2 linked regions of the Homo sapiens genome follow. The protein of the gene in region 1 purifies or fractionates together with the protein of each later gene. This does not show direct contact. Each region holds a gene or a part of one and is shown on either strand. Other genes may lie near its edges.

Region 1 (2,814 bases):
ATGACCTCATAAACTGTGGCCTTCTTGTCACCAGAGCCTGTTACAATGTATTTGTCATCCGCTGAAATGTCACAACTCAAGACAGACGAGGATTCTTTAGACTGGAGGAGGAAGACGAGGAGAAGCAGCAGGAAGGCGTGGGGTGCAGGGAGAAAAAAGACAGGAATTCATTTTCCAGTGCTCAACACCATCTCGGTTCTCTCGGCAACAATTGCCCTCCTCTGCCCCTCTCTGATGCTCCGACCTGGAGCACAGTGCGGTGAAGAGGAGGTGGGGGAGGCTTTAAAGCACCCATGAAGCATTTTCAGGTAGAGCTCCCCTCCCACCTGCTTTTCCATAAGGAAAAGCTCAGTAACAGTCTCCCACGTGATCTTTACAGTAAGTCATAATGATCAGAACAGGACGCTTTAGCAAGAGCTTCTCCTCCGAGTTTACAAATAGGAAGAAGCATTTCCAAGCTAGGAGCTGGCGTCAGCAGCTCAGGCCCACAGCCTGATGAGTTAGGAAAAGGATTGCCACCTGATGTTTGAAGCATGTGCTGTAACTAGAGACCCTAACAATGAGGTTTGACACGCTGCACACCAGACATTTCAGCCTGGGTCCAGAAAGCGGCATGTTGGCTGAGGGAGTGAGAGAGAATGCAAGTGTGTGTGTGGAAGCGCAAGAGAGAGAGAGGAAGAAAGTGTGTGGGGGAGACCAAGTGTGCGTGAGTAAATGAGTGTGAGTTTGATCGTGTATGGGAAAGAGTGCACGTGTGTGTGTGCACACGTGTGTGTGCCAATCAGTGCAGTATGGCAGGCCCCAGATCCTGGTAGATTATAAAAAGCCTCTTCCTTTCCTCCTCTCTTTCCTGTCCATGTCCCTGCTGGTGCTGAATGCAGGTGGAAACACTCACTCACTTGAGGAGGCAACACTGCTCTGGGCAAGGCTGCCGGGTGCCCAGGTGCCCAGCGCACCTCCCGCAGGTGCTCAGCATCCAGCCCAGAGCAAAAACACTTATGCTATTCCTCACTCTCCAAATCCGACAAGCGCCCCGGCTTAGAAGCCCTTGCCCTCGGGGGTCAGAAGCCATCAGTAGCAGATTGTGTGTCCTGCTGAAGTCCCCAGGTCCTTGGGAGAACCCAATCTTGCTCCCCTATCAGGTAGGGGTGGGGAGGGGACCAGGGCAGGTCTGATCCTGGCTCCAGGCTCCTCCTGTTCTTCCTGCTGCTATCCTCACTCCCATCACCATCACCAAGTTTCAACTCTGGGTAGAACCCAGAGGAGGACTCAGACGGTGGGCAGTACCTGGAATATGCTGGCTCCATAAGGCGTCCTCCAGGCGTTGAGAAGGTTATCTTTCCCAGTGCTCACGAACCACTTGCCTGCAGGTGGGAGGCAAAGGCATGATCAGGTTGTAGCTCACTGCCCTCTAAAGCAAGACCTGCCCTAGACATGGCCAGCTGCCATAGAAAAGCAGTGAGAACTGCTAACTAGTATAACTCTCCAATTTCGAGAGGCATTTTGCAAATGGGACATGCGGACACCTGGAGAAGGCCTTTCTCTGAAATCCAGGGGGAGGGCTGGGCGGGGCTAGGATGGGAAAAGGTAGGATTTGAAGTTCATTGCAGTGATAACGCTGCCTCAAAAGATTCTTGTTAAAGCCACTAAGGTTGACTGGCCTTTCTAAATTCTACTACTGGAAGGCAACAGGAAATACTGAAAATATCCAAGCCCTGGGAGTCTGGAGACCTGGCTGAAGACAGCAGTCAGTGGGCGACCTTCCTCCAAGCAGGAACTCGGCCAGGGCTCTACAAGTGTTAAAGCCCTTATGCTCCCTGAAAGCCATGAGCACCATGCTATTCCCGACCAGAGAGAAAAATCCACTAGAGTTCAGAGAGGGTGAGATGTTCAAGACTGCACAGCTTGTCAGTGGAGGAGCAGACATTCCCATCCAAGGCTCTCAGATGCCAAAGCAAGTGGTTGTAACCATGGAGAGGAACTGCCTGCACTGCTACTGTCCTGTTCCTTTGCCCCAAGCCTGCAAGAACTGGCTCTGGCCTAGTGTCCTGAGAGTTCAATAACTCATGGTGACATCTGCATCCGAGAAACAAGGATGTGGAACAAGATCACTTAAGGGTGTTGAAGGGGCACCAGCTCAGGGGTCAGGAGGCCTGGTTCCAGGGCCTAGCTTATTCTATAAGCTTTGGGCCCCTCTTCTGTCCTGTTGGGCCAGGCTGCCCTGGGTTCCCCACCCCACTCCATCAGGCCTGGGCCCATCCAAGGCTCACCGCAGTAGGCGAACTTGAGGGAGAGCACGCAGCTCTCGTGCAGGTGCAGCTGGTACTTGTCAGGCTTGGTGTGGTGCAGCACCTCCACGTTGCTGCTCTCCATGCCCACAGCCAGCCACTCCCCAGTGGGGCAGTAGCCCAGCGAGAAGATCTGCAGGTGGTGGGAGGGCAGATGGACTGAGCTCAGCATTCTCTGCCCTCAAGAGGAGGGCGGCTCCCAAAGGTGCTGCTCAGGTCCTCTGAGGCTCAGGGTCCCTCCCCACCCACCCAATAACCCAGGAGTATGGGAGGTCATTTTCCATCCCCATTTTATAGGTGAGAAAGCACAGACATTTTGCATTCAGTTACTCTGTCTCTGAGACTTTCATCTTTCCTTAAGAAAAAAGTGAGTTAAAAAAAAAAAACTAAAATATTAAAAATTTAAGATTAAAATATTAAAGTGAGGAATGCAAATAAGAAATAATAATCCCTGGCATTTACTGAATGCTTTCTGTGAGTCGGGTTTATGGCTACGCCTTTTAGAGGGATCATTTCAGGTGCCCAC
Region 2 (4,279 bases), on another chromosome or scaffold:
CATTTGAGCCCAGGAGTTCGAGACCAGTCTGGGCAACATAGTGAAACTCTGTCTCTGCTAAAAAAAATACGAAAAAAAAAAAAATAGCCGGGCATGGTGGCACATGCCTGTAATCCCAGCTACTCTGGAGGCTGAGGCACAAGAATCGCTTGAACCCACGAGGCAGAGGTTGCAGTGAGCCGAGATCGCACCACTGCACTCCAGCCTGGGACACAGAGCAAGACTCTGTCTCAAAAAAAAATTAAAATAGTTTAAAGTGTTAAAACATGTTTATCTTTTCACTCTGGATGATTCTGCGGCTGGAGTGGGGAAAAGGAATGGGGAAAATTACCTGTGATTGAAATATAAGTAGTAACTGCTCAAATGCCTATTGAAGGGTTTCTGGGCAAACCTAGTCAACATGGACAGCGGCCTTCCCCAGCTTTGGATGGGAAAACAAGGAAGTGCTGGCTGTTGAGCTGTGCTTTACGATAGCAATCATGAAGCCTTTTAACTAGTTATGCTGCAATGAAAGTGAAATGGGTCACTACCTGTGACCTATTTATGCTCAGTGGAAGAAGCAGGATGGTAGGGTACATGAGGATGATTATACAGAGCACTGGCAGGGGACACTCACGTAGATCATCCAGGCTGCATAACGTTCTTTGAGGTTGTACAGCACAGCAGGCTCATGCAGATGAGTCATCATGGCCATATCCTCGATCTTGTCATATTTGGGAGGGTTCATGGGGAAGACCTGATCATCCTTCACTGTCAGAGTCTGGTAAACAGGAAAGATAACCGTTTACATTAATTGAGTGACCAAACAACAACAACAAAAATCAATAAAATGTGGCAAGCTCCTGGGATTCTACTCACCGCTCCTCCCTCAGTCTTCACCGTCACTTTTCCTCCTTCTCTGCTCTGGATGGTCCCTTTGACAAAGGATTCTTTGGGCTCCGCCACAAAGACAGATGTTTTGGCATCAAAGGGCCTATTCTGGGCCTCAATGCGCTCCCTTTCAGACTTTCGGAGGAAAGGAGCAGCCTCCCCAAAAACAGCCAATTCTGAGTCTGAACTCATGGCTGCTGAACTCAGAGGTCCTAAAGGAGATAAAACTTTCACATTAGAGAGTCTGGATTGCCATGTATACCAATAAATCTTAATATTTATTGTATTTCATAGGCCCAGTTGGAAATTCCACTAGACAGGTCTACTGTTCACCATACTATAGTTACTGAGACAAACATAATCACAAGAACGAAAATGCATCAGGTGGTCTCTGTGTACCCAATGCCGTATTTAGGGCTTTGCATCCACTGTCTTATTTCATCCTCCAGGACTCACATTCTCATTGGGAACTGAATTACAGTCCAGTGCTGCTGTCAAGTAGCTTGTGACCTTGGGTATGTCACTTGATGTTTTTGAGCCTAAGTGACTCCATCTTTAGAATAGGGATTATAAATTCTGCCTTTCTAAATTCACAGCCCATGATATATGTGAAGATACTTTGAAAAAGAGGTTTAAATGATGACTGAGAAAGTAATTTGAAATTGTTCAGGCCACCATTTATATATGAGATGTCATGAATTATCATGTCACAAAATTCCATGTCTTGAATGTAATGTAGAAGAACTTTATTTCCTCCTTTACCTGTTCAGCCAGATTTGTTGAAGTTCAGTGGCTTATTGGAGATTATAATTTTGTTTACCTTTTTTTCTTTTAGGTTAGGTGCTTAGTATAGTTTCTCTGACATAATTTTTTGCATATTAAATACAGTTCATCAGTTTAACCCCCTTAAACTAATTAGGGATAAAAACAGTAGCCAACGTTAACCTCATTCTTCTACATCTAAGGGCTCCCTTTACTATTCCAAATTTTCCTTTGAAGCATGCAGGCCCTGTTTGCTCCGTTCTATGTGATCTGTAGGTTGCCAGTGGTATCAGTAGAATGAAAGGTTTGGCAAATAATTCTACCGCAGTCATTACATGATCAAATTACTTGAAACTCATTTGAATCGTCTCTTCTAGTCTCTCCCTTTAGAAATGCAGTAAGTAGTGGGAGGGCAGATTAATACCTCTATTATATATAAGAAAAATGCCACAGCACTCGGCATTGTGTAAGGTGACTTTTTACAAGGGCTTTAAGAAGTTTAAAGAAAGGATTGTCTTACTTCCATTTTACATTGTTGGACATTATGTTTACTAAATGAATTCTAACAGCAGGATACATTTTTATCAAATTTGAGATTTTTAGCCAGGGAATCTGAGGGTAGACTCTTTTTTTCCTGCACAGACAATATATTTATTCAAAGCGATTCCCCTGCTCAAATGTCACCCCACCAATGCTTGAGCCGTAAATGAGGATGTGTGCATTGTCCTGAAAGGACAGTCCTCCCTTTCTCACCGCTTTCCTGAAGCACAGTTGTTAAAGGGTATTTACTGAGACAAGCACTTTCTGAAAGGTTGCTAAGTGACAGAAATCCATCCCAGAGCCTCTTGCATTCTCCTCCAGGAACTGGTTAGTCCAAATCTTACCTTGTTAGCAAGTGAGAAGATGTAGCCTGGGAGTGAGACAGTTCTATAAAAGAAAAGGGAAAAGCACTTGATTAGTTGACCAAAAAGAGGGGGAAAAAATCCCATTTATGGCATGGCTTGCTATTGTAAACAGAAGTAACAAAATTCATAGAGGTAAAACGTGCAGTTCCAGAAGGAGCAGTACCAGAACTAGCAGCTGCTGCTGACACTGGGCGGTGTGACCAGTGTCCCTCTTGAAAGGCCCGTCCTGCTCCCACTTACCTTGGAGCTTTTTAAAGCAGGACGAGTCAGCCTCATTCCAAGGGCTCTTTTATATGGATAGCTATGGAAACAATGCAGCTGCCTCTTCTTTCTTAAGTCAAAAGGAATTGTTTGGCAAAATACCTCTTGGCAATCTAGCGTCCCCGCATAATTCTCATTCATATTAAGAATGGTTGGATATAATTAGAAATATTTTTCTTATTGAGTATGTGGATAAATCTCCTATGGATAATTTGAGAAGATGATCTGAAAGAGTCAAGCTGGTGGATAAAGGCAGTGGCTGGGCAGCCAGGATACCTGGCTTCCCTCGGAACTTCTTTTTGGCTTTGCTGGGCACAGCATTCGGGCTTGCCTCGCATCACTTTCGCATATTTCACGTGTTAAGTCACATAAATAAAATACAAATATGTATTTTAATTTTGTGACAGTTAATTTTTACCTGTTGGTCCTTTCTTTCCAGCCCTGCAAAATTAAGCGATGTGCCTTCAACAACTTAAAGAGACAGAAGGTCCTCTCTGTTATTCCAATATTCCTGTAGTTTCAGGAATTTCCTTGCTCGCTCACCTTTTTGCTTTTGCCAAAGTTGTTCCCTCTACTTAGCACACCATTTCCTGTCCCCCTACCCATTTGACTTGCCTGAAATAAAAAAGGTTGAATATTTTCTAGTAGCAGAGGTGTTTTTAGAGAGTACTTTTCAACATTTTTTCGTGTCATAGCCCGCTGAGAAAAAAATGACAATATTAGTGTAGCATGCTAGAGTAATGTGGAAGGGATTTGTCTATATCTGTAAAGGGCTTGGGGAGAATATTTTTAATTTTTTTACATTCCTTTATGTAATATAAATATAATAACTATGATACACATAGCATTAAGGAAAATATTAAATACTGAATATGTCGGAAACTTACAAATAATATCTTCTTGAAAATCCTAAGGAAAAATTTGAGCTATATCCTACAAATAAAACTTGTTTGTTTCTGACTTTATTCTTGAAATATGACACAAATTTCCAGATCAAATTTTCAAAAATGATACAAACAGTATCTGTGTTCTTGATAATTACCATAGCGGGGATTTTTGTCCAAGAAGGAGGGATGAAAATGGAAAACCAAGTAATTTACAACTGTTGGAGTATTTTAAAAATTCACCAGTTCTTCTTTCTCCTTCATTGAAAAATATAATGTTGAATATTCTCGTACAGTGAAAATAAGTTTTTAATCCATTTAAACTCTCTCTTTCATATCAAATATTTCAAAGGATAATGAAGCTCTAATCTTCAAAAACTTCATGGGTTAAAGGAGTCATCAGCATTGGTCAAAGGGCACACCAGTCACAAATACACACAAGTACCTGATCTATTCAAAGTCTAAGGTTTGGAGCTATTACTGTGGGCTACCTCTTCCAGTACAACCTACTTAGCCTTCTGGCACCTTTACTCTGGCTGGATGCTCTCTGGGCTGCATGCCTTGTCCCAGGCATCCTGGAACACCAACCCTCCCAGC

The links. Proteins that work in one complex are often made in the same cells at the same time.
Region 2: the proteins of TLE3 (region 1) and MYH2 purify together in Homo sapiens (affinity purification with mass spectrometry; 2 studies listed by BioGRID and IntAct, with this or other methods). This does not show direct contact.

The regions. Positions count from the first base shown.
Region 1 is NC_000015.10:70,050,104-70,052,917, forward strand, and holds part of TLE3 (transducin-like enhancer protein 3), read right to left. Parts: intron 2,422-2,814; coding exon 2,271-2,421; intron 1,365-2,270; coding exon 1,288-1,364; intron 245-1,287; coding exon of another isoform or gene 182-244; exon of another isoform or gene 108-181; intron 102-107; coding exon 1-101. UniProt on the Homo sapiens protein: Transcriptional corepressor that binds to a number of transcription factors. Inhibits the transcriptional activation mediated by CTNNB1 and TCF family members in Wnt signaling.
Region 2 is NC_000017.11:10,546,859-10,551,137, forward strand, and holds the start of MYH2 (myosin-2), read right to left. Parts: upstream 2,801-4,279; 5' UTR 2,778-2,800; exon of another isoform or gene 2,701-2,777; intron 2,560-2,700; 5' UTR 2,517-2,559; intron 1,083-2,516; 5' UTR 1,063-1,082; coding exon 859-1,062; intron 761-858; coding exon 617-760; intron 1-616. UniProt on the Homo sapiens protein: Myosins are actin-based motor molecules with ATPase activity essential for muscle contraction.